7 linked regions of the Homo sapiens genome follow. The protein of the gene in region 7 purifies or fractionates together with the protein of the main gene of each other region. This does not show direct contact. Each region holds a gene or a part of one and is shown on either strand. Other genes may lie near its edges.

Region 1 (4,912 bases), on a different chromosome or scaffold from region 7:
ATCCCAGCACTTTGGGAGGCCGAGGCAGGTGGATCACCTCAGGTCGGGAGTTAGAGACCAGCCTGGATCAACATGAAGAAACCCTGTCTCTACTAAAAACACAAAATTAGCCGAGCGTGGTGGTGCATGCCTGTAATCCCAGCTATTCAGGAGGCTGAGGCAGTAGAATCGCTTGATGCTAGGAAGCCAAGGTTGTGGTGAGCTGAGATCATGCCATCGCACTCCAGCCTTGGCAACAAGAGCAAAATTCCCTCTCAAAAAAAGAAAAAAAAATGGCCGGGCGGGTGGCTCACGCCTGTAATCCCAGCACTTTGGGAGGCTGAGGCGGGCGGATCACGAGGTCAGGAGATTGAGACCATCCTGGCTAACACGGTGAAATCCTGTCTCTACTAATAATACAAAAAATTAGCTGGTAGTGGTGACAGGAGCCTGTACTCCCAGCTACTCCGGAGGCTGAGGCAGGAGAATGGCGTGAACCCGGGAGGCGGAGCTTGCAGTGAGCTGAGATCGTGCCACTGCACTCCAGCCTGGGTGACAGAGCAAAACTCCATCTCAAAAAAGAAAAAAGAAAACAGAATAACTCACAGTATTGAGTTATTCTGAATAACTCACAGTATTGAGTTATTCTGAATAACTCACAGTATTGAGTTATTCTGAATAACTCACAGTATTGAGTTATTCTGAATAACTCACAGTATTGAGTTATTCTGAATAACTCACAGTATTGAGTTATTCAGAATAACTCACAGTATTGAGTTATTCAGAATAACTCACAGTATTGAGTTATTCAGAATAACTCACAGTATTGAGTTATTCAGAATAACTCACAGTATTGAGTTATTCAGAATAACTCACAGTATTGAGTTATTCTGAATAACTCACAGTATTGAGTTATTGAGTTATTCAGAATAACTCAATGTATTGAGGGCTAAGTAGGCCAGACACGGTGGCTCCTCCCTGTAATCCCACCCGTAATCCCAGTAATTTGGGAGGCCAAGGCAGGAGGATCCTTTGAGCCCAGGATTTTGAGACCAGCCTAGGAAACATAGTGAAACTCCGTTTCTACAAAAAAAAAAAAAAATACAAAAACTAGCCGGGCTTGGTGGCTCATGCCTCTGGTCTCAGCTACTCAGAAGGCTGAGGAAGGAGGATGGCTTGAACTTAAGAGGTCGAGGCTGCAGTTAGAGGAGATCACGCCACTGCACACCAGCCTGGGTGATAGAGTCAGACCCTGTCTCAAAATATTAATTAATTAATTAATTAAATGTATTTTGTAACAACAGACAGTGACTATTTTCCCACTTCACTGACCCACGTCCTACCCCATCCTAGGAAAAGGGGAGACAGTGATTCACAACTGAATAAGTGACTGCCCTCTGGCAAATAGGGATTCCAAGTGGAACATAACCTCTGATGCCAAGATTTATAGAATGTACATGTCTTATAGATACGAATTTTAAAATTCTCAATCTCATCTGTGTAATTTAAACAAGTTTTTAGTTATTAGATTATATATACAGAACTCAACATGTCACAACCAATCATATCCAATGAACTCACCCACTCATCTGAACCCAGTCTCTCGCCCCTTTTTTTTTGTTTGGAGACAAGGTCTCGCTCTGACGACCAGGCTGCAGTGTAGTCACATGATCTCAGCTCACTGCAGCCTGGACCTCCTGGGCTCAAGTCATCCTCCCAGCTTGGCCACCAGAGCAGCTGGGAGTACAGGTGCACACCATTATGCCCGGTTATTTACTTACTTTTTTGGCGGGGGGGAGGTCTCACTATGTTGCCCAAGCTGGTCTCGAACTCCTGGACTCAAGCAATCCCCTTGCCTCAGTCTCCTAAAGTGTGGAGACTACAGACTACAGGCGTGAGCCACTGTGTCCAGACCCTCTTTCTTCATTACTGTGCTTCCCTCCCTAATTCTGTACATATCTCTCATTCTCCCCTTCTCTCTCTAGCTCTTGTTTTCTTTTCTTTTTCCCTGGGATTCTGCTCTTCATTTTGTACCCCTCTCCTCTCCTGCTATTCATCCCCTTCTTCCCTTTATTCCTTCTCTTCCACCTCTTCTCCTCCATCCTCACAACTTATTTAACCTCTTATTGCTCCTTCTCCCCAATCTTTCAATCGTCCTCAATCTCCATCTATTTCTGCCTCTTCTCCCATCTCTGCGCCTCCTCTGCTCTCCCTGTTAAATTCCATCTTCCCCGATATACTCCCTTGTCCCCACTCTGTGTCTCCCCAGATCCCAGCTGTCCTCTCTGCTGTGGTTCTCCCTCTGTTCTCCTTGACACAAGCACCACTCTGCTCTGTCTGCCCTGGCTCCAAATCCTTCCCTCTCTCCCTCACTCTGATGAGTCTCCCTCTTTGCTGCCACTCCCCCTACCTTGTGATCCTTCATCTCTCTGTACATCTATCTAGCCTTTCTCTACATTTCTCCGGTTGCTTTTCTCCTCCTGCTTTCTTAGGTTTTTTTTTTTTTTTTTCACTTCTGCCATCTCTTGGCATATCCCTCACCAATCCTCTATTTTGCCATCTGTTATGGGCCTTTCTTATTCTTCTTTTCTCTGCCTCAGGTTTTCTACTGCTCTCTGTCTCCTGATTCCTTTGGCCCACACAATCGCAACACGGTTTGGAGTAAGACGCCTGCATCCCGGAGGAGCGCATTTTCCACGCCCTGGAGCTCCGCAGGCAAGAATACCCCGTGCCGCAGGACAGGCCCCTGGGACCTCCCCAGTGCAGGTTCAATGAAAGCGGTGACTGCGGAGGGGAGACCTGGGGAGCAGCAGGCCCCGGCATGAGGAGGAAGGTGCGGGGCGGGGGGGGGGGGCGCGACGGCGCCTTAGGACCAGGATGGGGTCTGCAGGATCCCAGGACCTGGCAGAGGACTCGGCCTCCCCGGGACTGGGGCTGCGGCGCGGCGCTCCCGGGGCTGAGGAGGGGGAGGCTGGGAGGCGCCCTGGGCAAGAATCCACATCGCGGGTGAAGACTTTAAAAAGCGCGGGGCGCGAGGAGTCAGAACAAGGTTTTCAGCAGGAAAACTACGCAACAGAAAGTGTATACATTGACCTATAGCAGAAAGACCGGGGACGAGACCAGCCTCAGGACGACTTTAAACCCAAAAGGAAGCGACCCTCGGGCTCTCACGGGGATGTCTCAATTTGCTCTGGGCAAAGGAAGACGCCGGAGAATTTCCAGGTCTGTGGGGACCCCACGTCCCAGGGACAGAAGCCCTGGGAACCTAGTTAGCGCAGACTTAATACAACACAGAGCAAAACTCACCGCGGCGATATGACCTACACTCCACCCGATCCGCTTCCGGGTTTGCGTTAATCTGCGCGCGCAGGACAAAAGCCAGGCCTGGGCGGGAAGTGGGAGGTAGGCGGGGCCTGGGCGAGGTAGGGGCGGGGCGCGAGGCGGAGAGACCTTGCCTTTTAGAACCGGCAGAGGGCAGGGCCGGGGCGGGATCTGCGCGTCTCTCAGCCTCGCTCCCAGCGTCTCTGTTTTCAGGTTTTGGAGGCGAGAGCGCCAGAAAGTCTGAGGCATGATACAAAAGCCCTGTTGAGAGAAGAGAGAGACCCTCTGACATTGTTTTATATTGTTTTATAGTCAGTAAAAACAACAGGAAGTAAAACCAAAGACAGGCAGCCCCGCGCCAGGCCCGAAACCAGGCCTGGATCCGCCTGGCCTAAACCCAGTAGTTAAAAATCAACTTATGATTTAGAAGCTGATGTTAGGCATAGATTCCAGACATTGTATAGAAGAACACGGTGAAACTCCTGCCCTGTTCTCTCTCTCCCTGATCACCGGTGCATGCAGCCCCTGTCACGTATCCCTTGCTTGCTCAATCAGTCACTATCCTTTCATCTGAAATCTTTAGTGTTGTGAGCCCTTAAAAGGGACAGAAATTGTGCACTCGGGGAGCTTGGATTTTAAGGCAGTAGCTTGCCAATGCTCCCAGCTGAATAAAGCCCTTCCTTCTACAACTCGGTGTCTGAGAGGTTTTGTCTGCGACTCGTCCTGCTACACTGTAATTGTCTGGAACAGGGATACAAACTAGAATGTGAAATGCAAAGCCCTGCCTGGGCGGTATGTACCATGTCATGCTGAGGTCCCACAGAACAGATAGATATCCTCTCCCTTTCTATTGTCCATTCACTCCGGAAGGAGACTCCGCCCTGTGCTCAGCTTCAGAGACTTCCCTGAAGCCACCGCCTGGAATGCCGGACGGAGTGCTCAGGCCGAGAAGGAGTGAGGTCACCACCTGCTGCTTAAAGACAGCAGAGGCGCGGGGGCGGGAGCCTGAGGTCCCAGCTACTCAGGAAGCAGCGGCGGGAGGATCCCTGAGCCTCGGGTTCCAAGCCAGCCTGAGCGACAAAATAACGCCCACTGCCGCGGTCTCCCTTTCTTGTCTCTCTCTCTCTCTTTTTTTTTAAAAAAAACTTTCGCAAATAAAATTTTTGATTGTGTGACATAGGGATCCAACATTATTCTTTTCCATGTGGATATCCAGATAGTTGTCCTAGCACATTTATGGAAGAGATCTATTACTTTCTTGTATTATTATTATTATTATTATTATTATTATTATTATTTTTGAGACAGAGTATTTCTCTGTTGCCCAGGCTGGAGTGCAGTGGCGAGATCTCGACTAAATGCATCCTCTGCCTCCTGGGTTCAAGCGATTCTCCTGCCCCAGCCTTGGGAACAGCTGGCATTACAGGCGTGCGCCACCATGCCAGGCTAATTTTTGTATTTTTAGTAGAGACGGGGTTGACCATGTTGACCAGGCCGGTATCGGACTCCTCACTCCAAGTTATTTGCCTGCCTCAGCCTCCTAAAGTGCTGGGGTTACGGCGTGAGCCAACATGCCTGGCTAATTTTTTGTATTTTTAGTAGAGATGGGATT
Region 2 (4,253 bases), on a different chromosome or scaffold from region 7:
GTGAACATAAGAGAGAATCAGGTAAGCTCATACAATTTACATATAATTTATATAACATACAAAGTCACATACATTTATCTATTTCATATAATCCATATTTCTACACATTTAATACAATTTATATATATATATTTCTTTTTTTTGAGACAGGGTCTCTGTCACCCAGGATGGGGTACAGTGGCATGACCATGGCTCACTGCAGCCTCAACCTTCTTAAAAGAAGTAGCTAAGACCACAGGTATGCACCACCATACCTGGCTTTTTTTTTTTTTTTGGAAAGACAGGTGTCTCAACATGTTGCCCAGGCAGGTCTTGAACTCCTAGGCTCAAGGGATTCTCCCATCTCCTCCTTCCAAAGTGCTAGGATTATAGGCATAAGCCGTTTGCACCTGGCCTATATTTATACATTTTACATAATTTACATATTTTTATACACTTAGTAATTTACAGAAAATGTAGGGAAAAAAGAACAGTAGAAGATGTAATACTTACATACAAAGGTCTCTACATGTGTGCACAAGTCGCCACATTTAGGACAGCGCAGCTGGTTTCCACCTTTCCCAGAATTCCCAGAGCCTGATTTCTTACTACTTCCCTCACTTGCTGATTTCTAACGTTTATGAAGGAGAAAAAAGGAAGAGTGTCAATTATTAGTTTCAGGCAACCAACTTAAATGTAAACAATACTGTTTGTAATTAATTTTATAATCTTCTATATTTCTAGGATGAAATTATTAGTATATTTTATAATTCTATTACTGGTGTCAGAAGATCTATTTACTTCAAAAATCAAATCAGTTCTAGTAAATACATATATATCTGCAGTCCTCCTTTGTATAACATGTGCCAACATATATAATAAACAGCTTTCATTCAATGACTCAGGCACTAGAAAATTTACTAAGGGTAAAAAACTACATTTCAATGAAATTGAATCAGGAGTTATTATCATGGTAGGTAGTGACTCTGACTATTCTTAGATCTAACTTTTCTCATCTCTAAAATGGGAATAATTTTACTCACATCAGAGTCACTGTTAAGTATGGATATGTAAGTGTCTCACATTTTGTCTAACATATAAAATTAACTCAAGTGTTAGTCAAATTCACGTAATGAAAAAAACTGTTAAGTCACTGACTCAATACAACTACCAACATAAGTTATACTAGCTACAACATAAAGTTATACCAGAAATATGAAATTTTTAGGCTACCAGAGTAGCCCAACATTAAGTTATACCACAAATCTGAAATTTTTAGGTAGAGGATAAAGTGAGGTTTATACTGCCATGGGTTATAAGAGTTATATGAAAGCAGGAAATGATGGCTATTCCTAATTCAATCCTACTGACTGTCATTTAATGACACTTCTTTACTACTTTGGGGTGTAAGAAATTTTAATTACTGCTTACTATGTGCAATGCTTATAAAAGTATTTTAAGGTTCAAAATGAAACATCTAATTACATAAAATTATTCAGATCATTTTAGCTATCTCATATTTCCTACAGAAAACATATAAGCCAGTAAGAGACAGTACTGTTATATTTTTTTAAAGGAGGGAACTCACAATGTGTACAGATGCCAATAAGATAAAATAATTACCTTATTTCCATCTCCAGAACCATCTTTACTTATCCCATCTTTTGAGGCAAAGTATGCTGGTGTTTCTGTAAAGGATCTAAGAGGAGCTCTTTGCAGAATCTGAGTTTCAAATGTCCCAAGCCTTCCTAAAACTGACATATGAATGCGACCACCAGAAATACCTGAAAATAAAAGGAAATCTACATCAAATATAGACATGCCTCAATAAATCCCCTGGAAACAAAAATTCCTTGAGCATAAAGGAGGTTGAAAAAAAGCTATCATTTTCACAGTAGTATAAACTGAGAGAAAAAAAATGACACCAACGGAGGCAAAGTCCTTTCAAAAACAGGCCAGCAGGTCTGGGCCTCTGAAAGATTCTAAATAAATAAAGGTGTTTCTTTCTGTATGTGTCCTTTGGAAATAAGGCAAGATCACCCACGTCATAACTTTTTCAAAGTTTGAATGGACTTCAACATCTGCCTCACCTGTAAGATTTTGAAAAAGGCCATTTATGCCCTATATTCTTATTATTTCTACCAATGAGAATAAACATCTGACAGCAACTCATCTGTTATTATATAAGAATACTATCTGGGCCGGGTGTGGTGGCTCACCCCTGTAATCCTAGCATTTTGGGAGGCCTAGGCGGGTGGATCACTAGAGGTCAGGAGTTCAAAACCAGCCTGGCCAACATGGTGAAACCCCGTCTCTACTAAAAATAAAAAAAAATTGGCCACGCATGGTGGTGGGCGCCTTTAATCCCAGCTACTCGGGAGGCTGAGGCAGGAAAATCGCTTGAACCCGGGAGGCGAAGTTTGCAGCGAACTGAAGTCGTGCCACCGCACTCCAGCCTGGGTGACATAGCGAGACTCCATCTCAAAAAAAAAAAAAAAAATCTGTAACAATGGAAACAAACTTCAAATGTTCTTTAAGGTCAGGCGCGGTGGCTCATGCCTGTAATCCCAGGGTTCGAGACCAGCCTGGCCAACGTGGTGAAACCCTGTCTCTACTAAAAATACAAAAATTAGCTGGGTGTGCTAGCAGGCGTCTGTAATCCCAGCTACTCAGGAGGCTGAGGCAGGCGAATTGCTTGAACCCAGGAGGCAGAGGTTGCAGTGAGCCAAGATCATGCCACTGCACTCCAGCCTGGGCAACAGAGGGAGACTCTGTCTCAAAAAAAAAAAAAGTTCTTTAAAAAATTGTGTTATTCCACTTACACGTGGTACTTAGAAGGCAAAATCATAGAGTCAGTGAGTAGAATGGCGGTTCCTGGGGGTTGGGGAAAATGGAGAGTTATTGTTGTAATGGGTACAGAGCTTCAGTTTCACAAGATGATGGCAATGGTTGCACAGTATCAATGTACTTAATACTACCGAACTATACACTAAAAATAGTTAAGTCTTGTAAATTTTATATGTATCTTACCACAATAAAAAAATTGAAGGAGCCAGGTGTGATGGCTCACGCCTGTAATCCCAGCACTTTGGGAGGTTGAGGTGGGTGGATCACTTGAGGTTAGGAGTTTAAGACCAGCCTGGCCAACATGGTGAAACCCTGTCTCTACTAAAGATACAAAAAGTAGCCAGGCGTGGTGACAGGTGCCTGTAATCCCAGCTACTTGGGAAGCTGAGGCAGGGGAATCACTTGAACGAGGCAGAGGTTGCAGTGAGCCGAGATTGCGCCACTGTACTCCAGCCTGTGCAACGGAGCGAGGCTCTGTCGCAAAATAAATAAATAAATAAATAAATAAATAAATAAATAAATAAATAAAGATAGTATCAATCCCAAAAGTAGGCTTAGAAAAAGTAATTGAGGGGGCCAGGTGCAGTGACTCATGCCAGTAATCCCAGCACTTTGGGAGGCCCAGGGGGGCAGATCATAAGGTCAGGAGATCGAGACCATCCTGGCTAATACGGTGCAACCCCATCTCTACTAAAAATACAAAAAATTAGCTGGGCATGGTGACACGCGCCTGTAGTCTCAGCTACCCGGGATGCTGAGGCAGAAGAATCGCTTGAACCCAGGAAGCAGAGGTTGCAGTGAACCGAGATGGCACCACTGCACTCCAGCTTAAGCAACAGAGTCTCCGTCTCAAAAAAAAAAAAAAAGAAAGAAAGAAAGAAAAAGAAAAAGTAATTGAGGGAGAGTGACAGATGCAATCAATCAAAATGACCATTCACCAATCATAAAATCCTCATAAAAATGATAAAGCTCTGTAGCAAAGTAATTGGGATTTCTAACACTTTTTGTGCCATGAACCCCTTAAGCAGTCTGGTGAAGCCTCTGAATAGATCTTCTCAGAATAATATTTTTAAATGTATAAAATAAAATACATAACAAAGGAAACAAATTATAATGAAGTAGTTATCAAAAAATTTTTAAAATATGCCTCTTTATTAACAAGCAAAATTAAATAAGATCTAACAGCTTTTTAAATAATTACTATGATTTCAAAGTAGCAAAAAGTATGGACAATATTCTGAAATATCAGCAACTATAATGTGATATGAAAATATTTCTGATTTTGATTGATGACAAATCCACAGACACTTCTAAGACTACTGTGGATGTGTTGCCCACATTCATAGGCCAAGGAAACGTTGTGTTTCAGTTAGAGCTTAGTGAAAATAAAGTTCACAGAATCTCTGAATTCTATTCAAGGACCCTTT
Region 3 (4,253 bases), on a different chromosome or scaffold from region 7:
TACTCCTGAGCTCAGGCAATTCACCCGCCTCGGCCTCCCAAAGTGCTAGGATTACAGGCATGAGCCACTGCGACTGGCCAGTACTCTTGACCACTATTTTTAATACATGACAAACCCTCTTGCTTCAGATTTTAGGAAATGATTATAAGCTCCAAGAATCATTATTTAGAGAATACTTTATTAGTTTCTGTAATCAAACCCATGTAGATAAGACCTTACATATTTAATACAGTGCGTTACCCCTGTACAAATGGAAAAAAATTAAGTTTAACGTTTCTAGACCAATATGGCTGTTAATTTCTGTACAATGCCAACTCAACACAGTAAACCGGGATACTTTTTCCAAAGTTGACAGCACAGCTAAAGTTTCCAAAAATTCAAATTATATATATATATGTATATATATATATATATTTATATAAAAAGACCAATAGCAGTATGTTATGCATCAATAGCAGCAACAGCTTTTCCAGGTTCTGCAGTCATCTGAATAAAATTATAGAGACATCCAGCACACTCCATTTAAAAAAAAGGGGGGAAAAAGGTAAAAAACAAAACCCCAGAAAATTGCAAAGTTCTGTTACTGTTGTGGTACCTGGCACCGTTTTTTAAAATTAGCTTCTGAATCATCATCTGGAAAGAAAACATTCTAGAATAACATCATTAAAAACAGCTCTGATAAAGCACGGTCACTACTACGTATCATAAAGCAGGTACAAGATATTTTACATTCACAGAGGTATGATACAGTACTGTCCTATATCTATAATACTAGAGGATACAATTAAAAAGGCATTATTTGAGACTTGATTCTACTTTTCCAGCAGAGGGCCCAAAGGATGGCATGACACAGCTCTGTAAAGAAATGCACCTTCTTAGGATTTCCTTTAATTAGTGGCACAGTTCTAGGTACTCACTGTTCTTCATAAACACCAGCTAAAAACTGGTATAAAAAAAAAAAGAAAAAAACCCCCAAATCATGGGATTCATACAAAGATGACTGAGTGGGGGCAAGGAAGACTCAACCTAACCAGCATTTTACCAAATCTGTCATGTTTGAATCGTGAGAGCTCCATGGAAGAAAGGAGATGCTAAGTAGCGCTTCAAAGCTTCAGACCACAACCAAAACACAGCACCATTTCAAATAGAAGCAGTAGCCAAACACTGCTCACTTTGATATGGTTCAAGGATGCTGACATCAATATTTATCTGCTCATTCATCCAGGAAGAAGGGGACATCAGTTACTACTGTACTTTGATTGTGTTCAACTCAATCACCATGTTATAAAAATAGCAAGCTGCCATAATAAAAAATAAGGCTCCTCTATCCAGCACCAGTTATCTTCAGTTCTTTACCTCCAAGCCTACAAATGCCATAACCATATCCGAAGAACATAAGGGAGCAAAAAAACCGCATCTGATGTAGTAGCTGGGACCATCACACTGTTCAGGCTGAGCTATTCCTCTGCTGTGTTATTTTCCTTATATTTTTGGTGTTTCATCTAATCATAAGGATTTTTAGGTCTAAATTATATGCACTCAAAAAAATGGGTGCATACATTTATATATAAATTCTGACTGAAGATGCATGGCCATCAACCAAGCACATGTTATATAGTAGGTACAAGCTTGCAAAGCCTCGTTTTCACTGGTACAGCAGCTGTGTGTCAGTGTAAATTGCTCCTATGTCCCTTGTACATCTCCAAGCTCTGAACAGGATAATGTCACAGGCCATTTTGCCCCTTTGGCTGCCAGCATTATCTGACTTAATTCTCCATGTTTTCCCGCCCCCCTCCCAATCCCCTGCAATAAACCATAGCCTTTAAGATTTTGTTTCTTCGGTTTTGATCGCCTGAGGTTTGATTGGTCCAGTTCTAACAGGTTTGGTGGCTATGGAGGGTGCAGGGGGTGGCTTTTCTTCTACTTTTTCCTGACAGACCCCAGGAGGGTCGGTCAGTGTTTCAGGAGGTTTACTTGAATCACTGTCCACTTTCTGGGCTTTGCCTCCTCCTATCTGTTTGCTCTGTTGCTGTTCAGAGAAGAACCGTTGCGTGGACTGAAGAACCTCTGCTCTCTGCTTTGCCTTAAAAAATGAGAAAGAACAACTGAAAATACTGCAGCATTACCAAAGCCTGTCAAATCAATCTTGGTTCAAATTCTTTTACCAATCACAAATCAGTTTTCCCCACACTGGTTTGGCCAAAGCCAAAAGTACCTCATTGATCTTTGAGCTTTTAATGAATAGATTTCTTCCTATTTTTGAAATATTTCATGTGATTTAAAAAAAAAAAAAAAACCACAGGACCACCTCCCACCACCTTTTCAAGGTCTGCCCTCTCATATTAAATTTTATTTAGGGAACCTGCTTGCAAATCTAAAAACATACATGTAACACTTAAAACTTCTAGTTATCAATATGTGGTCTACAATAAAATGAAAAGGAAGCACTTATATTGTGGCATTACCAACACCTAGGACCAAATGTCTTGTGGCTGAGTCCTCTTCCCACAGCTCTCTTCTGCAGGGGAAGAGCATCAGAAATTAGTAACTACGACTTCACTTGATCACTAAGTTCTGATAGCTCCTACCACATTCTGAGCTGGTAAATAATTTCTTAGTTTTGACTATGTGCCCCCAAAAATATACTTACGTCAAATCTGTAAATTTTACCACTGTAACATTCACAATTAAAACTTAAGTTTCCATCCTTCTTGCATATTAAAAAAATGCTTTATGTTCTATAGGTAACCTGTACTATCCAAAGATCTGAAGCAATTTTCAAGAAGTTTGTACCCTCTCCCACCCCATTACTACTATTAAGCTCTAATGTTATTTCCAACATGGGAATATGCGAAAATCAAGAGCCAAGGAGCCAGGAGTAGAACTGGAATCCAAGGCCAAATAACTTCCTAAGATTTTTACTCACACTGGTATTTCTAATTATAACAAACAGATGGAAATCCTAGGCATACAGCCTTAATAAAAGTAGATAATTATTTAATAAAAGTTTTGCTGCTGGGTAGTCTTTAAATTTGATTACTCAGGATCAGAAACACTAGGGATGTCGACCCAAAAAGACACTTTAATCAATCAATCAAATTTTCTAATAGGATTATCATAAACATGTTTCTAATTCAGAGTAAAGCATTACTATGCACATTTCCCTGTTTGAAAGCAGTAAGCTTTTCTTTGTTCTAGTCTGATCTGATGACATATGTAGTGACAAAACAGGCAAAAATTACTAAGATCCCTGAAAGTCAAGCCTAAAGTAAATATAGAAATAAACGGATTCAACTGGCTGTACTGGCAGACATGTAAGGTTTATGCTACAAAACTGTCCCCACACAGACTCCTAAAGGCACTCTTTCTGCATTAGCAAACCTCATGTTTATCAGTGCCTTTCATCATGAAGGATCCCAAAGTGCTTTTCTGAGTTCTTCATCTATAACTGCACAATCCACTGTGGAATACAACCACCTCATGTGGTAGGCCAATAAGGGTATGAAAACAGTTTGAGAAGAAAACTGTACTTTGATGACTCATAATGGAAAAAAGTACTAAGATAGTAACACATCTTACCCATTCCAGAGTTTTCATATAACCATGATTTACATTTTAAGCTGCTGGGAGGAGGAGAGTCAGGGGAAAGGGGGGAAGAAAATATATATTAAAAAAAAAAAAAAAAAGAAAGAAAATGGGGAAGTCTATAATAATTGATATTACTTCTTTGCTATTCCAAAAAAAAGTGTGCATCTAAACTCAGATCTCCCTCAAATATTTATTTGATAACAATTCATTTGGCCACAGTTTAAGACATTAATTCATTTCCTGACTACAGTTGCAAAAAAAAAGAAAAAGAAAAAGAAACAAAAAGAAAAAAAAGATGAAAGGAATGGGAATGGGGGAAAAAAAAGAAAAAAAAGGGGGAATGAATAAAAGTAGTTAGCTTGGTTAAGTCTGCTAAGACAATGAATGCCTGGATATACAGTTATGGGTCCAGAGGCATTTTAAGACATGGTTCAGAGACAGATTCTTGATCTGTTGGCTGTTAACACTGTACTAACCTTCATGTCTTGTTCAGCCTTCAACGCAGCCTGGGCCTGATTACCTCTGACTCCAGATAGTGATCCACAAGGACCCCTGGCTACATGTGGCAAACGAGCATGGCTCATGAGGCCTGTGGTCAGCGGAGGAGGCATCTGACTGGCCAGTGCCATTGGTGGCCTCTGAACAGGCGCTGGGAAGGTGTTAGT
Region 4 (4,253 bases), on a different chromosome or scaffold from region 7:
CTCTAAATATAGACTCCAGGCCTCGGGCCACACGTTTTCAGGTGGTCTGGCATGAAGTTTCCCAGCTGGATTTGATGTCCCGGCTCCACACTGGCTGGGAGCTGACCCTGAAGGGAGGAGGGTGACCTTGATCAGGAACACAAGGAATCCCCATTTCTGGGGGAGAAGCCCGCCTGGGGTCTGCCTCCCTCCCAGGGTGTCACAAGGTCTTGTTATTGTGGGTGCCGATGGCTGCCTGACAGATCGAGAAGGACCTGCTCCGCACCATGCCCAGCAACGCCTGCTTCGCCAGCATGGGTAGCATCGGGGTGCCCCGCCTGCGCAGGGTGCTCCGGGCCCTGGCCTGGCTCTACCCAGAGATCGGCTACTGCCAGGGCACCGGCATGGTGAGCACAGCCCCAGAAAGGGCAGTGGCAGCCCCAGGACCCCCTCCAGGACCCTAACAAGGAGTGGCCTCCCGCTACGGGGCAGTAGCCCCAGGGCCTCCTCCAGGACCCCTAACAAGGAGTGGCCTCCCACTCCGGGGCGTCCCCAAGGAGATCGGGGCAGCTGCACGTTATGCAAGCAGAGGCGCTCCCCAAGGGATGTGAAAGTGAGGCAGGCCAAGGAAAGCAGCCCAGGGAAGGCCTGGGTTCCAGCATGCGTGCCCCCCAAGAGGCTTTTGCTAATTGGTCTCCCTAGGGTAGGGGCACCTTTTCTAATCTGCACAAAGACCTGGGTAGAAGGCCCTTGTCCCTGTGCCCTGGCCAGGTGGCCGCCTGCCTCCTGCTGTTCCTGGAGGAGGAGGACGCCTTCTGGATGATGTCTGCCATCATCGAGGACCTGCTCCCCGCCTCCTACTTCAGCACCACCCTGCTGGGTGTCCAGACTGACCAGCGGGTCCTGCGCCACCTCATTGTCCAGTACCTGCCTCGCCTGGACAAGCTGCTCCAGGAGCATGACATTGGTAAGGCGCCCCTGAGCCACTGGCTCCCATTCTGCAGCTTGGAGGACTCAGGCGGGTGGCCGAGTGGGGATAGGGCACAGCCCCCCAACCATGGTCTTTGTCGCTCTTTTGTTCTCTGGTGTTCCCTGCCCCCTCCCCTCCTTTGCTCTTAAGCAGGGAGGACCTTGCTGCAGTTCCGGGGAGGGAGGTTTCCACCACCTCCTCCCCAGCGGCTTTGGCTCCTGTGTTTACAGAGCTGTCCCTGATCACACTGCACTGGTTCCTCACGGCCTTCGCCAGCGTGGTGGACATCAAGCTGCTCCTGCGCATCTGGGACCTGTTTTTCTACGAGGGCTCCCGGGTGCTGTTCCAGCTCACGCTGGGCATGCTGCACCTCAAGGTGCTCCACGGCCCCACTTCAGGCTGAGGAGTAGGCACCCGAGATGGGGGGCAGGGGAGCAAGAGACCTCCCTGGGCCAGGCAAGACCAGCCCCCTGGCCCCTGACAACTGTGCCAAGGCAAACGGGTCCCTGAGGATGGGGGTTGGGGTCAGCTCAGTGCCACGTCCCTGCAATGACAACCTTCTTCCCCCATCCTGCCCTGGCATGGCCCAGGAGGAAGAGCTGATCCAGTCAGAGAACTCGGCCTCCATCTTCAACACGCTATCGGATATCCCGTCGCAGATGGAGGACGCGGAGCTGCTTCTGGGGGTGGCCATGCGGCTGGCCGGCTCCCTCACCGATGTGGCCGTGGAGACTCAGCGCCGCAAGCACCTGGCCTATCTCATTGCAGACCAGGGCCAGCTCCTGGGGGCCGGCACCCTCACCAACCTCTCTCAGGTGGCCCAGGATGGGGGGCCGCACCTTGACCCACAGCACACGGGGAGGAGGGGTCACCTTGAAGTTCAGAGCGCGGGGGCTGCGGAAAACAAACCAGCCCTTCCTGCTCTGCCCCCCAGCCTGGCCCAGTCAGACCACAGCTGTGGGGTGATCCAGGCCTCCTCAGGCTTTGTGCACCTCAGGTTCTGATCCTGGCACGGTTTGGGAGGAAGGCAGACCCAGCTCTGATTATCTGTTTTCAATTCTTGGAGCCAGCGTCAGAGGCTATTTCAGATGAGACAGTATAAGCCAAGGGCTGGTGGGTTCTCTTCCTCCCGGGGCCAGGACCACCCTGACCCACTCCTCTTGGTGCAGGTTGTTCGCCGCAGGACCCAGCGGAGGAAGTCCACCATCACTGCTCTGCTCTTCGGTGAGAGCTCTGCGAGTGCCAGGCAGTGTGGGCATGCGGGAGTCTGTCCTCACGCTCATGTGGACGTGGAGCTTCCTCCTCGGGGGCCTGGAGTGGGCTGTGGTCACCATGGTTCTCTGGGCCTCCTAGGGGAGGATGACCTGGAGGCACTCAAGGCCAAGAACATCAAGCAGACGGAACTGGTGGCTGACCTCCGGGAAGCCATCCTGCGCGTGGCACGCCACTTCCAGTGCACAGACCCCAAAAACTGCAGCGTGGTGAGTCGCCAGCTCCCTGGGCTGCTACCAAACACGGCCCTAACTCCTCCAACCCCCTTGGTGGGCCTGTGTTCACTGTGGCAGGAGCTGACTCCAGACTATAGCATGGAGAGCCACCAGCGGGACCACGAGAACTACGTGGCGTGCTCACGCAGCCACCGGCGCCGAGCCAAGGCCCTGCTGGACTTTGAGCGGCACGACGACGACGAGCTGGGCTTCCGCAAGAACGACATCATCACAGTGCGTGGGGGCGCTGGACTACCAGGTCCTCAGGCTGTGGCGGGTTCCCCAGACTCCCTCCACCAAGCCCCACCCCAACCCCTTTCCCTGCCAAGAGCTTCTCTTGTGAAGATGTAGGGGTCTTGGCCTGGCCTAGTTGCTGAGGAGTCATATCGGGGGTGCAGGAGGCGCTGGCCCAGGGCACCCAGCTTTGGTTCCTGCTGTTTTTCCTCCTGTGCAGATCGTGTCTCAGAAGGACGAGCACTGCTGGGTGGGGGAGCTCAACGGCCTGCGAGGTGGGGTCCTTGGTCTGCTCTTGAGCTGGGAGAGGGAGGAGGGGGTGGGCACAGAAGACTTGGGTGACCCTGGCCGCCACCAAGCTGTTCTCCTCTATACACCTGCCTGGCTTGAGGTCCCTGAAGCAGCTGAGCCGGCTTCCCACTGCCTCAGCCTGCCTGCAGGCTGTGTCTGCTCTGTCCTCGGCCCTCGTGGTTGCTCCTTACAGGGCCTGTTTTTCCCACAGGCTGGTTTCCAGCCAAGTTCGTGGAAGTCCTGGATGAGCGCAGCAAAGAGGTGAGGGGGGTGGGCGGGCTAGGCACGGCTGGCACCCTTCTAGCCAGGGCCTGCGTGCCTAGCGAGTCCTGGCCTGTAGCATGGCAGAGAGGACAGAGGAGGGTGACTGGCTGCAGGCGTCAGGCAGGGCTTTCTCAGACCCATCCCTCCCATCAGTACTCCATCGCGGGGGATGACTCGGTGACGGAGGGGGTCACAGACCTCGTGCGAGGGACCCTCTGCCCGGCCCTTAAGGCCCTGTTCGAACATGGACTGAAGAAGCCATCCCTGCTTGGGGGCGCCTGCCACCCCTGGCTGTTTATCGAGGAGGTAAGTCAGTGGCTGGGCCCATGACCCCCACCCTGCACCAGCCCTGCTGTGCCCCCTAGTACCCATCTTAGGTCCTTCCTGCCCCACAGAGAGGATGGGAAGAGCTGGCAGCGTGGTGACAGGTGCCCAGTCGGCCCCAAGGGCTTTGAACCAGCATCTTCCTGTCCCTGCACTCACACCGTGTGCTGTCCCCACAGGCTGCAGGCCGGGAGGTCGAGAGAGACTTTGCCTCCGTGTATTCCCGTCTGGTGCTCTGTAAGACCTTCAGGTAACTCGGCCCGGGTTCTTCTGGTGGGGTCACCAGCAGTGGGAGGGCGGGGCCTGACCCAGCCCCGGCACCCCAGGAGCTTTGGTGTCCCCTCAGGTTGGATGAAGATGGCAAAGTCCTGACCCCGGAGGAGCTGCTCTACCGGGTAAGGGGGCCTCCTCTGCCAGACCCTAGAGACCTCTCTGGGGTTAGCCTGTGGGGGAGCCTGAGTGACAGCTGACGGTGCCGTTCCCAGGCTGTGCAGTCTGTGAACGTGACCCACGATGCAGTGCATGCACAAATGGATGTGAAGCTCCGCTCACTGATCTGCGTGGGGCTCAAGTGAGTGTGGAAAAGGGGTTGGAGGAGAGCCCTGGAGTGGGGGGACCCAGCCCAGCATCAGGGGGGGTCCTTACAGGGAACCCTAAAGGACAAAGAACCTCAGGGGCTCAGGTCCTTCCCCAAAGAGGGTGGT
Region 5 (4,253 bases), on a different chromosome or scaffold from region 7:
CTTCTTCACTGACCGTTGGATGGCTGCTTCATAGCGCTCCTGGGGGAAGGTGGGGAGAAGAGAGAGATGTGGACTCAGAACATTCATCGAATTTGGGATAGAGGCCCTTCTTCCTCCTGTGACAATGCCTCCCCCACTCCCTTCCCTTGGAGTCTTTTCCTGACTCATTGCAGGTAACCAAGGTTACCAAATCCTTGCTATGATTAAGGACCAAGATCCCTTTCAACTTGTTCTTGGGGAGCTTTTCACTGTTCCTGAGTCATTTCCTGAGTGCATGAGTTGATTCTCTGAGGATTGGGTGGACTCCCCCTACCTGGGGCTCCCAGGCAAGGCCACATCTCAGGCACTGAGGGTCCTGACCTTGGGGCTATGTGTTCCCTCTAGCCTGAGGCCCTCCCAGGTAGGGCCAGGTGGCCATTTCCTTCATTTCCTCACCAGCACTCAAGCTAGGGCTTTACCCATGTCACAGAGCTAGGCACGCTCACACAGATGCATACCTGCATACATACAGACACATGGGGTACATGTACGAACACAGGTACTGACAGTAAACAGTTACAGGGGCCTACAGTGGCACATTCAGAAGCAAATGTGCCTGCAGTTGTACAGGTGCCCAGATATTCTAACACAGGGACACAACTGTAGATGTGAACACAAATAGGACCACATAGACACAGATAAGGCAGAGCCGTGAACATGGATGTGTGTACACACTGCACCAGTATGCAGACGGTGAGCACACGTGTACATGGATTCACGGAGACCCATCCCGCACCTTGTTTTTCTCGAGCTTCTGCCGCTGCCGTTCCTCCAGGGCTGCACGGCGTTGCTCGGCTTTAAGACGTTGCTCCTCCAGCCGGCGCCGGCGCTCCTGGAGCTGCTTCTCCCGCAGCGCCTTGGCCTTCTCCTCCTTCTCCAGCCACACTGCCTTCTTGGCCGCTGTGGACAAAGGAGCCCAGTGGCGTGTGTGAAGGGTTCTGCAGAAGGCCTGGGCCAAGGACATTTCCTCCAAGTGGCCAGCCCTGCTACCCATGCCCTGGGTGGGTCTTTCTCCCGCCTGCTTAGGTGGAGCTTTCAGTCTGAGACAACCCCCTCAAATTGAGAGGCTTACTGAAGACAGGACTCAGGAGAGGCCTATTTCTCCTCCATTGGCCTTATGGGCTCTCAGGGCTGAAGGAGAAATGAATGCTTGAGTGCAAGATCCCCATCTGACCTGGGGGGCCTACCAGACAGATGTCCACATACTGTGATTAAGAGCATGGGATTTGGGGTGGCAGGAGGCTTCTGGGTCTGAATGTCAGCTACTCTACTAGCTGTGTGGCTTAAGCAAATGATTTCATCTCTCTGAGCCTCTGTTTCCTCCTCAAAATGGGTTGAGGATTAAATTAGATGTGTGTCCTGCTCTTAGCACAGTGCACATAATTAAGTGTTGCAGAAGTGTTGGTTTTTTTTTTTTTTTTTTTTTTTTGAGACGGAGTTTTGCTCTTGTTGCCCAGACTGGAGTGCAATGGCACAATCTCGGCTCACCACAACCTCCGCCTCCCAGGTTCAAGCAGTTCTCCTATCTCAGTCTCCCGAGTAGCTGGGATTACAGGGATGTGCCACCATGCCTGGCTAATTTTTTGTATTTTTAGTAGAGACAGGGTTTCTCCACATTGGTCAGGCTAGTCTCAAACTCCTGACCTCAGGTGATTCGCCCGCCTCGGCCTCCCAAAGTGCTGGGATTACAGGCGTGAGCCACTGCGCCCCAGCCTGTTGGTGTTATTAATAGGATGCTGATGATGACGATGAAGAAGATGATGAGGCTTCCTGCTCACTCACCCAGGTACTTGGCCCGCTCTTCTCGCCGCTCCTTTGCCAGCTTGTGTCTCTCTCCTGCCTTCTTCACCTCTGAGCAGAGGGAACAAGAACAGACAGGTCAAAAGGCTGTCCCCAAAGAGGAGTCAGCCTCAGATCCCTCCCTCCGGGCCTCACCCCATCCTTTCTTTATCTCCTCTAGGGCAAACAGGACTCTTTCAGTTGGCATGATCCAGGGCCAGGACCCTGAGCCAAGAGGTTTAGGCCCAGGCCGGGGTCATTACACACACCTTGCTTGGTGGGAGGGCTGTCGGAGGCTGGCACTGCTGTTGGAGATGGCTGGCTGCTCCTTCGAGGAGGTCTGGCATCCCGTGGGCCCATGGCTGGTGGGGTGGGTCCTCTGCTCTTTGCTTCAGAGGAAGGGGACTCTTCCTGCGGGGGGGCTGGCCTAGGCCCGACCTGCCCTGAGGGGCTCTCTGGTTCCAGTGGGAGCTGCTTAGAGCTAGTGGCATTCTTCATGGCAGGAGGGGTGTCCGGGGGAGTGTCGGGGACCAGGGCTGACATTGGTGGTGGTGGGGGGGAAGGGTCACCTTCTGGAGAAGGTCTTGGCTCTGGGGGGGTCCTGGCGACCACAGCTGAAAGACCAACACAAGAGAGGAGAGAGGTCAGATTGCTCATCTGTGCCATCAGCCCCATATGTGGCCCTCTCCCTTGTTCAACCGACTTCTTCATTCACTTATGTTTGAGTTATTTCTATGTGCCGGGCCCTGTTCCAGATACTCATGATATAATGGTGAGAAAATAGCCATGATCCCTGCCTCTGTGGCGCTTACCCTCTAGCAGGGCAGACAGACAAATAGCTAGGCAACTACAGTAGAGAATAAATACTATGTCTGGGGCAGCAAAGCAGAGATAGTTAACCTATATGGGGAGGGCTTGCTGAAGAAGTAACAACCAAGCTGAGATCCGAAGGATAAGCTGGAGTCAGCAAAGCAAGGAGGAGAGGTGTTGGCAGAGAAGAGTATATGCGAAGGGGCAGAATGGAGCAGGGTGTGTTGGAAAAGCTGAGAACAAGCTTGTAGCACTTATTCGTGCACCAAATGCACTGATTGTTTCCATGTCTGCCTCCCTCTCCTTTCTGCTTTACTTCTGGGTGACTGTGCCCAACCCAAGGTCTGTTCACAGAGGGTGCCAGTGCTGGGCACATGGGACTGACCAAGAGGAAGGACGTAAGTATGGGCTCTAGTGGAATGCTTTGCTGTGAAGATTCCATTGGCAACAAGCTACGTCCACTTTATAATCTTTTTTCCCCAAGCCACACCGAAATTTCTGCTTTTAAGACATGACTATTGTAGGAATCCTGTAAAAGACATCGAAGTGAAGTAAGGGAGCCACACGATTTGACATATACACATGTGGGGCAATTGAGAGACAGGCTTCAGAGTCAGTCAGATGAGGAAGATGGGAAGAGAGGGCTTGTTTCCCCAGCAGACAACCATGGACAAGCCAGTCAACCTCTCTCAGCCTCAGGTTTTTTTGTTTTGTTTTGTTTTGTTTCCCCCCAAGTCTACTTGCTGCTAGTGAATTTTTCAAGGGTCTAGTTAGTTCCTTTAAGTCTCTTTTTTTAAATTTTTATTTTTTAAGAGATAGGGTCTTGCTATGTGGCCCAGGCTGGATTCAAACTCCTGAGTTCAAGAGATCCTTCTGCCTCAGTCTCCCAAGTAGCTGGGATTACAGGCCCATGCCTGGCTCAGCCTCAGTTTTGATACCTGTAAAATGGGGATAACAAGCCCAAGCTAGTAGGGAATGTCAGCAAGGTGCCTGGCACTATCCACATGCCAGCCAGCAAACAGCACTCCCTGTTGGTCTTATGAAGCCTCCTGGTCTCCCAAACAGAAGCTTCTGTATGTTGAGCCCTGGTGCCATCTGCTGCTACCATCCAGGCACTGAGGAGATCAATGGGAACACAGCTACCAACTTGCTTAGGGAGCAGGGCCGGCATCTGTGGGAAGCTTCATCTAAGGAAACATTTTTCTTTTTTTTTTTTTTTGAGACGGAGTCTCGCTCTGTCACCCCGGCTGGAGTGCAGTGGCGCAATCTGGGCTCACCGCAAGCTCCGCCTCCTGGGTTCACCCCATTCTCCTGCCTCAGCTTCCCGAGTAACTGGGACTACAGGCGCCCGCCACCACGCCTGGCTAATTTTTTGTATTTTTAGTAGAGACGGGGTTTCACGGTGTTAGCCAGGATGGTCTCAATTTCCTGACCTCATGATCCGCCCGCCTCAGCCTCCCGAAGTGCTGGGATTACAGGCGTGAGCCACTGCCCACCGCGCCCGGCCTTTTTTTTTTTTTTTCAAGACAGAGCCTTGCTCTGTTGCCCAGGCTGGAGTGCATTGGCACGATCTCGGCTCACTGCAACCTCTGCCTTCCAAGTTCAAGTGATTATCCTGCCTCAGC
Region 6 (4,253 bases), on a different chromosome or scaffold from region 7:
CGAGATCATGCCACTGCACTCCAGCCTAGGCAACAGAGCGAGACTCTGTCCAAAAAAAAAAAAAGGTGATGGGGCTACTCAGAAGAGGCTGATTTCCTGCACGCTGAGGAATGGGCACGGTGGCTACCAACCAACAGCACGATAGGCCAGCACACACTGAGAGGCGGGTGAAAAGAAAAGGCAAGGTCGTGAAGGAAAGAAGCCTAGGGCTTTGGGTAGAGTGACTGAATTCCTGACCTGTGGGAGCTGGGAGTCCAACATCTGGGAGGCACCCAGGCCAGCAGCCTGGCTGAGCTGGCCCTCGTAGACCAGGGCTTGGTTCCCGCTCATGGGCTGGTAGGGTGAGCCAGACTGCGGCTTCACCATCTCCAAGGGCTGCATGCCTGGGAACGCCGAGTATGGAGGCTTCAAGGCTGTGCCCCCAGAGAGGATCATGGTGCTGGGCGGTGACAGGCTGGGGTGCATGTACACCTGAGATCTGCAAAAGCCAGACAGATGGTCGGGATCAGGTGGATGAGTCCAGCTGCGGATCTGGTCCCACCCTTCAGAGATCCCCGGAGAGCTTGCTAAACCACAGATCCCCGGCCCCACCCCCAGAGCGCGACTCAGAGGGTCCAGGATGGGGCCTGAGAACAAGCTCCTAGATGGCGCTGATGCTGCTGGATTAAACAAGTGAAGACATCCAGGCTGTACGAGGCACAGGACATCAGCCACAATGACTGGCAGCCACACTGACGGAGAAGCCCGCGGTGGGGAGGAGACAGGGAGTCAAGGGGAGAGGAGGAGGAAGGAGCAAGGAAAGGAGGCAAGATGACATGGAAAAGCAAAACACGGCCCACCACATATCAGCTCGCCCCAGGCCTCTCCTAGAGCACAGTTAACAACGGACTGAAGAGTGATTCAGAGCAAACTCCCACCCCTCCCCGCCCCACTGGCCCCAAAGCAGACAAGCACCAAACAGCTGCAGGACGAAGGCTGCACACAGGGCCAAGGCCCTGGCTGTGAGCTGCCAGCTCCGCAAGCTGGTACATGAGCTCACCTGAAGGGCTGCAAGGAGCTGAAGATCTCCTGGGACTGGGACACAGGAAGCCCACCCCTCAGTCCAAGCTGAGCTTGTGCCTGCAGAGATGTGTGAAGGGAGATCGGGATCTGCTGGGCAGCGGCGGCCTGTGAACGGGAAAACGGGGTCGGGGAGGTAACCGCAAGGCCCATCCAGGTGGTTCTTCCCCTCCCACCTCCCCTGCCCCTCTCCACATGGCTGCTGGAACACTGCCCAAAATTCAAATGCCAGCATGTCATTCCTGGGCTTCCCTTGCTATTGGGATAAAGCCTATAATGAAAAACTGGTAGCAACCCCAAACCACAGCATATCCCTACCCTGGAATTCTACACAGCAACAAAAATGGATCCTAGCACATACGTCAACAGAGGTGAGTTCCAAAAACATAACGCTGAATTTAACAATGCACAAAAAGAAAGATACATGCAGTCTGACCCAGTTATGCAAGAACCAAAATCTTGGTAACCAAACAATACAGCAGTTAAGAACATGTTTTTAAAAAGAGGTCAGCAGAGGCCACATCCTCCATCAGCAAGCCTGCACTTGGAGCAGATTCTGCCTGGAAGTCCACTGTCGTGGCTGTGGAGGCACATGGGTCTGAGGGGCGGCTAGACCATCCCAAAGGCCCAGCACCAGCATTAGAGGGGAGACTTCCAAAAATCACCCCTTGGCAGCACAGAAAGTATGCCAGTCCTGCATAAATAACCAACGCCTGCTCATTTCTAAGACTACCTCTTTCTAATGCATCCATGCCTGGGAGTTTAGGCCTTTCTTCTCTTCATCAGAAGGATACCTGATCACCAAAGAAAATTCCATTTTAGCTAATTCCCCGGCTAGGACACAGGAGGGAGAACTTTGAGAAAGGAAAACTAAGCAGAGTCTGGAGCAGCCAACTCCACTCCTCTTCCCTGTCTCGATTATTCGCTTAACAAATGCCTCCTGGCTGCCGTGGCGGGCCAGGTGCTGGTCACCACATGTGAGGGGGATGGAAAACCAGACAGACAATGAGAAATAGATGAGCAAGCCAATTCCGCCCTGCACTGGCTCCTCCCCACCACCCCCAGCCAGGCCACCTGGCTAGCTGCTGTCACCTGTTGGTAACTCTGCTGCTGAGGTATCGTTTGAGGAACCAGCCGGGGCTGACTTGCAAACACATGGCCATCCAGGTACAGGGGCGGGAGGTGGCTGCCTGGAAACAGAGCGGCAAAAGGGACGTAGAAGAGGATCAAGCCTCACTACTTCTCAATGTCCCTGAGGGAAACAGTCTACAGGTCTGCTCTACCCAGGGGACTCAGTGGGGACGAGGGCGTGTGTACAGAGGCTGCTAGGTTCCCTGTGTGCCGGAAGCACACGCCTGCTCACAACACGCCTGGCACGCACCTCAGGGAACGTAGGGAGGGTGCAGCGTCAGACCTAGGAGGAGGGAGGAGGCAGGTGGGCTCTGGCCTACCCTTCCCACCTCCCACTCACCAACTACCCCAGACACTCGAAGGGGCATTCTACTTTAACCAGGGCTGCCTTGGTCTCTCAGTCACTGTCCTCTTCATCTCCCTGCTATTGAGTCCACAGTGGAGGGTCAGAAGGATCTATTGGAATTACATCACTGAGACTGGCAGCTGGGCCCTCAAAACCCCCACGCTTCCCCTTGGGGACACTGGCACACGATAAGGATGGCAGCAATCAGGACAAAAGTAGCTGCCAGTGACTGAGGGCTCTGTTGATACAAAGCCCTTTCCAGGTAAGACCTGGCCTCACGGGTGTGGCCACCCCACGGAGTTTCATGTAAGAGAGGAGAGGACACTGTGGCTCGGCAAGAGCTGCTCACCAGCCGAGGCGACACGGCTCCAGCACATGACCCAGGTCTGACTCAAAGTCAAGCCTTTGCTCGCTCCTGTCACCAGTAGGCAGGAGTGCCTCGCTGTTATCCCCCAGTTCTGTTTCCCAGCGTGGGGAAGCAGGACGTGCACATTACCTGCAGCACATGGGAGCTACGACCACTGGGCCTAAAAACAAGTTGCTACTTCTACATGCTACTTAAGACAAGGCCAGGAGGTGACATTCGGGGCTGTTAATCCGTTTTTCTTGATAATAAATGGAGAAGGACCCCAAGGCCTTGCTCAGGGGATGAGATACCTGGCATAGAAGCAGAAGGTGCTACAGAGGCCACAGGCATGGGTGGCATGGACACTCCACCGAAGGAGCTGTAGTTGACCCCGCTGGAGGCACCCACAGAGGATGGAGGCTGGATGCCTGAGCCAGCGCCGCCTGGAGAGCTCTGCTCCGGCAAACTGGGGGAGTTTTCCCAAGCCTTGCGCGCAGACTCCATCTTCAGAAGCAAGGGGAGGGGGAGGGATGAAAATTACTATCACGCTGGCAGTGGACAGAGCCAATCTAAGCTTTAGGGGTTCGGGGACTCCTCCCTTCTGCCTCTTTGTAAGCTAAGGTACTGGGTGGGCCCTCACCCAGCTCAGGGCTGGTGTTACCTTCAGAGTAAGGTCGGCGGTGGGGAAGGACATTGGGGAGAGACCGATGGCCCTCTGGATGTGATGGTCCCGCCGCAGGATGGGGATACTCTGTGTTAACCCTGCCTGGAGAGGAGGAAAAGGAAACCATGGAACACAAACAGGTGCAGAGATGGCTTTGCCCAAACCCATCCATGGCTCTCCTGAACACACTCAAGGCTCGTCCAAATGTATCTATGACTTGCCCAAACCCATCCATGGCTTTTCCCAAAAGCACCTACAGCTCCGTGTCTATGAATTGTCCAAATGCATCTTCAGTATTGGCCACATGTACCCAAGACCACCCAGATGAAACTGATGGCAGCCAGGACCATGACTGATCTCCTGGAGATGGCTGCCTCCATCAGTTTCCTCCACACAAGTCTGCAGAGAGCCACCCCCATATCCACACTCCATAGTGCCCTCCAGACAGGGAGAGCCATGTCCCGGCAGTATAAATATGGACTGGCAGCCCGCACACAAACATCTGGTTCAGAAGGCACCTGCCACCTGGCCTGGAGATGCCCTGGGCCAGACAGGGAAGGCTGTGCCCCTCAGCAAACTGAAAAAGAGGGCTCTGGTAACAGAGGCTGGAAATGCAACAGTGCCCCCGCTTCCTGCAGATCCCCGGTGTCCATCTGCATGTGACAGAGACCGCAGACTCTCGAGTAAAGAACCTCGTAGAGCCCAGC
Region 7 (4,253 bases):
ACCTCCTCCTCAACACCCCACTGCCCTTCCCAGCCTCTGGTAACCATCCTTCTACTCTCTATGTCCATGAGTTCAATGGTTTCGATTTTTAGATCCCACAAATAAATAAGAACATGTGATATTTGTCTTTCTATACCTGACTTATTTCACTGAACATAATAATCTCCAGTTCCACCCATGTTATTGCAAATGACAGGATCTCATTCTTTTTATGGCTGAATAGTACTCCATTGTGTATCTGTAACACATTTTCTTTATCCATTCATCTGTTGATGAATACTTAGGTTGCTTCCAAATCTTAGCTATTGTGAATAGTGCTGCAACAAACATGGAAGTGCAGATATCTCTTTGATATACTGATTTCCTTTCTTTTTGGTATATACCCAGCAGTGGGATTGCTGGATCATATAGTAGCTCAATTTTCAATTTTTTTGAGGAACCTCCAAATTGTTCTCCATAGTGGCTGTACTAATTTACATTCCCACCAACAGTGCACAAGTGTTTTCTTTTCTCCACATCCTCACCAGCATTTATTATTGCCTAACTCTTGGATAAAAGCCATTTTAAATATCTCATTGTAGTTTTGATTTACATTTCTCTGATGATCACTGATGTTGAGCACCTTTTCATATACCTGTTTGCCATTTGTATGTCTTCTTCTGAGAAATGTCTATTCAAATGTTTTACCCATTTTTAAATTGAATTATTAGACTTTTTTCTATTGAGTTGTTTGAGCTCATTATATATTCTGGTGATTAATCTGTTGTCAGATGGGTAGTTTACAAATATTTTCTCCCAATCTATGGGTTGTCTCTTCACTTTGTTGATTGAATCCTTTGCTTTGCAGAAGCTTTTTAATTGATGTGATCCCATTTGTTCCTGTTTGCTTTGGTTGCCTGTGTTTGTGGGGTATTGCTCAAGAAATTTTTGCCCAGACCAATGTCCTGGAGATTTTCCCAAATATTTTCTGCAGCAGTTTCATAGTTTGAGGTCTTAGATTTAACTCTTTAATCCATTTTAATTTAATTTTTGTATATGGTTAGAGATAGGGTTCTGGTTTCATTTTTCTGCATATGGATATCCAGGTTTCCCAGCACCATTTATTGAAGAGACCACGCATTCCCCAATGTATGTTCCTGGCACCTTTGTAAAAAATGAATTCTTTGTAGATGTATGGCTTTATTTCTGGGTTCTCTATTTTGTTCCATTGCACTGTATGTTTGTTTTCATGCCAATACAATGCCATTTTGGTTACTATAGCTCTATAGTATAACTTGAAGTCAGGTAATGTGATTCCTTCAGTTTTGTTCTTTTTGCTTAGGATAACAGGCTATTCTCGGTATTTGTGGTTTGATATAAATTTTCGGATTTCGTTTTTCTATTTTTGTACATAATGTCTTTTTTTCTTTTTCTTTTTTTTTTTTTTGAGATGTTGTCTCACTCTGTTGCCCAGGCCGGAGTGCAGTGGCACAATCTTGGCTCATTGCAACCTTCACCTCCTGGCTTCCAGCAATTCTTGTGCCTCAGCCTCCCAAGTAGCAGGGACTATGGGCATGTGCCACCATGCCCAGCTAATTTTTTTTTTTTTTTTTGGCAGAGACGGGGTTTCACCATGTTAACCAGACTGGTCCTGAACTCCTAACCTGAAGTGATCCACCCACCTCTTTGTGTTCCCAAAGTGTGTCAACAGTGAACAATCTGACAAAGCAACACTTTGCTTCCCAAAGTGTTGAGATTACAGACATGAGCCACTGCGCCCAGACAAGAATGTCATTGGTATTTTGATAGGGATTTTATTGAATCTGTATTGTGTTTTAGGTAGCATTGAAGCAGGATATTTCCTTGACCCCTTCGTGGGTGGGAACTGGAGTGCACTGGTGCTGGACCTAGCTGGCGCTTTGGCACTAGCAGGGGCGAATTCCACTCACTTAAACCTGCTGTGTTCTACCCCTTGTGGGAGGGGAATCACAGGTCAGTGGGTGCAGGAGCTGGGGTGAGTGCCTTTGGGCACCGGCAGGAGCAAAACTCTATGCGCACCCCACAGCAGAGTCCGGGGGGCGGGGTGCCTGCGACCCTTGAAGCCCCAGAAGGAGTGTTACAGTACCCTTTTAGCTTTGCTGTTTGCAGATGGCTTAAGCATTAACAGCTCACCAGAGGGTCAGTGTGACAGCCTTCTGCACCCACACTGAAGTTCTTGTCTGGCATCCAGGAGGAATGAGGTTACACAATGAATCAAAGGTGGTTAATGTGGGAGATTTTATTGCTGATCAAAGTGGCTATCAGTGGGAGGGGGAGCTGAAAAGGGGATGGAGTGGGAAGGTAATCTTCCCCTGGATTCCAGCTGTCCCCATCTGGACTCCTCTCCAAAGCTATGCCATCAAGCTGTCCCTCTGAAGTCAAGCCACTTCTCTCCAACATCCAACTATAATCTCCAACGTTTAGCTGCTTCTCCTCTTTCTGCCAGCTGAGCCTGGGTTTTTATGGGCACAGGATAGGGGGCAGGGTCAACCATGGGTGGTTTTGGAAAAGGCAACATTCAAGCAGGAAAACGGAAATATAAGTTCTCACTTTGGACTGTGGTTCCAGGCTTCAGGGTGGGGCCCTCACCAGGGACCTGCCCACTTCTGCCTAGAATTTCCCTGCCTCCTGTCCCTGTCAGTATGGACATTTCAACAATATTGATTCTTCCAATCCATGAACATAGAATATTTTTCCATTTTTTGATGTCCTCTTCAATTTCTTTCTTCAGTGTTTTATAGTTTTCATTGTAGACATCTCCCACTTCTTTGGTTAATTTGTAGGTATTTAATTTTATGTGTGGCTATTGTAAACAGGTTTACTTTTTTATTTCTTTTTCAGATTGTTCACTGTTGACATAAAGATGCTACTGATTTGATTAGTTTGATTTTCTATACTGCAGCTTTACTGAATTTGTTTATGGGTTCTAATAGTTTTTTGTGGAGTTTTTAGGTTTTTCCAAATATAGGATCATATCATCTGCAAACAAAAATAATTTGACTTCTTTTTTTCCAATTTGAATGCCCTTTATATCTTTCTCTTTTCTGATGGCTCTAGCCAGGACTTCCAATACTATGTGGAATAACAGTGTTGACAATGGGCATCCTTGACATGTGCCAGGTCTTAGAGGAAAGGCTTTCAGTTTTTCCCCATTCGATATGATACTAGCTGTGGGTCTGTTTTATATGGCTTTTATTATGCTGAGGTGTTACTTGTATCCCCAGTTTTTTGAAGGGATGTTGAATTTTATCAAATGCTTTTTCAGCATCAATTGAAATAATCATGGTCTTTAATCCTTCATTCTGTTGATATTATGTATCACATTGATTGATTTGTGTGTTGAACTGTCTTTGCACCCAGGGATCCCACTTGGTCAGGATGAAGGATCTTTCTAATATATTGTTGAATTTGGTTTGCCAGTAGCTTGTTGAGGATTTTTGCATCAGTATTCATCAGAGATATTGGCCTGTAATTTTCTTTTTTTGAAGTGTCTTTGTCTGGTTTTGGTATCAGGGTAATACTGGCCTTGTAGAATGAGTTTGGAAATAGTTCCTCCTCTATTTTTCAGAATAGTTTCAGTAGAATTGGTATGAGCTCTTCTTTAAATGTTTGGTAGAATTCAGCTGTGAAGCCATCAGGTCCTGGGCTTTTCTTTACTAGGAGACTTTTTATTATGGCTTCAATCTCATTACTTGTTATTGGTCTGTTCATGTTTTGGATTTCATGGTTCAATCTTGGTAGGTTATATGTGTCTAGGAATTTGTCCATTTTTTTCTAGATTTTTCAATTCATTGACATGTAATTGCTCATAGTGGCTACTAATGATCCTTTGAATTTCTGCAATATCAGTTGTAATGTCTCCTTTTTCATTTCTGATATTATTTATTTGGATCTTCTCTCTTTTTTTCTCATTAGCCTGGCTAAAGGTATGTCAATTTTGTTTAACTTTTCAAAAAACAACTTTTTGTTTCACTGATCTTTTGTATTTTATTTCAAATTCTTTTAATTCTCCTCTCATCTTTGTTATTTCTTCTACTAATTTTGGGGTTGGTTTGCTCTTGTTTTTCTATTTTTTTTTCCAAAAGAATATGCAGGTATCATTGCTTTTCTAGGTCTTTAAGATGAATTATTAGATTGTCTGTTTGAAGTTTTTTCTGTCTTCTGATGTAGGCACTTACAGCTATAAAACTTCCCTCTTATGACTGTTTTTGCTATATTCCATAGGTTTTGATATG

What was found.
Region 1: the proteins of KLF8 (region 7) and ZNF611 purify together in Homo sapiens (affinity purification with mass spectrometry; one large-scale study listed by BioGRID and IntAct). This does not show direct contact.
Region 2: the proteins of KLF8 (region 7) and CLPX purify together in Homo sapiens (affinity purification with mass spectrometry; one large-scale study listed by BioGRID and IntAct). This does not show direct contact.
Region 3: the proteins of KLF8 (region 7) and PRRC2C purify together in Homo sapiens (affinity purification with mass spectrometry; one large-scale study listed by BioGRID and IntAct). This does not show direct contact.
Region 4: the proteins of KLF8 (region 7) and SGSM3 purify together in Homo sapiens (affinity purification with mass spectrometry, with the first as the bait; one large-scale study listed by BioGRID). This does not show direct contact.
Region 5: the proteins of KLF8 (region 7) and MAP7D1 purify together in Homo sapiens (affinity purification with mass spectrometry; one large-scale study listed by BioGRID and IntAct). This does not show direct contact.
Region 6: the proteins of KLF8 (region 7) and PRRC2B purify together in Homo sapiens (affinity purification with mass spectrometry; one large-scale study listed by BioGRID and IntAct). This does not show direct contact.

What each region holds. Positions count from the first base shown.
Region 1 is NC_000019.10:52,731,716-52,736,627, forward strand, and holds the start of ZNF611 (zinc finger protein 611), read right to left. Parts: upstream 3,330-4,912; 5' UTR 3,286-3,329; exon of another isoform or gene 3,079-3,285; intron 2,746-3,078; exon of another isoform or gene 2,316-2,745; intron 1-2,315. UniProt on the Homo sapiens protein: May be involved in transcriptional regulation.
Region 2 is NC_000015.10:65,178,442-65,182,694, forward strand, and holds part of CLPX (ATP-dependent clpX-like chaperone, mitochondrial precursor), read right to left. Parts: intron 1,764-4,253; coding exon 1,603-1,763; intron 611-1,602; coding exon 493-610; intron 1-492. UniProt on the Homo sapiens protein: ATP-dependent chaperone that functions as an unfoldase.
Region 3 is NC_000001.11:171,589,417-171,593,669, reverse strand, and holds the end of PRRC2C (protein PRRC2C), read right to left. Parts: coding exon 4,065-4,253; intron 2,519-4,064; coding exon of another isoform or gene 2,466-2,518; intron 2,084-2,465; coding exon 1,823-2,083; 3' UTR 159-1,822; downstream 1-158. UniProt on the Homo sapiens protein: Required for efficient formation of stress granules.
Region 4 is NC_000022.11:40,404,899-40,409,151, forward strand, and holds part of SGSM3 (small G protein signaling modulator 3), read left to right. Parts: intron 1-195; exon of another isoform or gene 196-242; coding exon 243-386; intron 387-750; coding exon 751-946; intron 947-1,179; coding exon 1,180-1,325; intron 1,326-1,539; coding exon 1,540-1,764; intron 1,765-2,118; coding exon 2,119-2,173; intron 2,174-2,302; coding exon 2,303-2,430; intron 2,431-2,514; coding exon 2,515-2,670; intron 2,671-2,890; coding exon 2,891-2,945; intron 2,946-3,172; coding exon 3,173-3,222; intron 3,223-3,378; coding exon 3,379-3,531; intron 3,532-3,728; coding exon 3,729-3,799; intron 3,800-3,875; exon of another isoform or gene 3,876-3,895; coding exon 3,896-3,944; intron 3,945-4,034; coding exon 4,035-4,120; intron 4,121-4,253. UniProt on the Homo sapiens protein: May play a cooperative role in NF2-mediated growth suppression of cells.
Region 5 is NC_000001.11:36,169,150-36,173,402, reverse strand, and holds part of MAP7D1 (MAP7 domain-containing protein 1), read right to left. Parts: intron 2,433-4,253; coding exon 2,088-2,432; intron 1,891-2,087; coding exon 1,822-1,890; intron 940-1,821; coding exon 776-939; intron 40-775; coding exon 1-39. UniProt on the Homo sapiens protein: Microtubule-stabilizing protein involved in the control of cell motility and neurite outgrowth. Facilitate microtubule stabilization through the maintenance of acetylated stable microtubules.
Region 6 is NC_000009.12:131,484,081-131,488,333, reverse strand, and holds part of PRRC2B (protein PRRC2B), read right to left. Parts: intron 3,649-4,253; coding exon 3,544-3,648; intron 3,387-3,543; coding exon 3,194-3,386; intron 2,670-3,193; exon of another isoform or gene 2,584-2,669; intron 2,250-2,583; coding exon 2,152-2,249; intron 1,168-2,151; coding exon 1,040-1,167; intron 479-1,039; coding exon 238-478; intron 1-237.
Region 7 is NC_000023.11:56,252,353-56,256,605, forward strand, and holds part of KLF8 (Krueppel-like factor 8), read left to right. Parts: intron 1-4,253. UniProt on the Homo sapiens protein: Transcriptional repressor and activator. Binds to CACCC-boxes promoter elements. Also binds the GT-box of cyclin D1 promoter and mediates cell cycle progression at G(1) phase as a downstream target of focal adhesion kinase (FAK).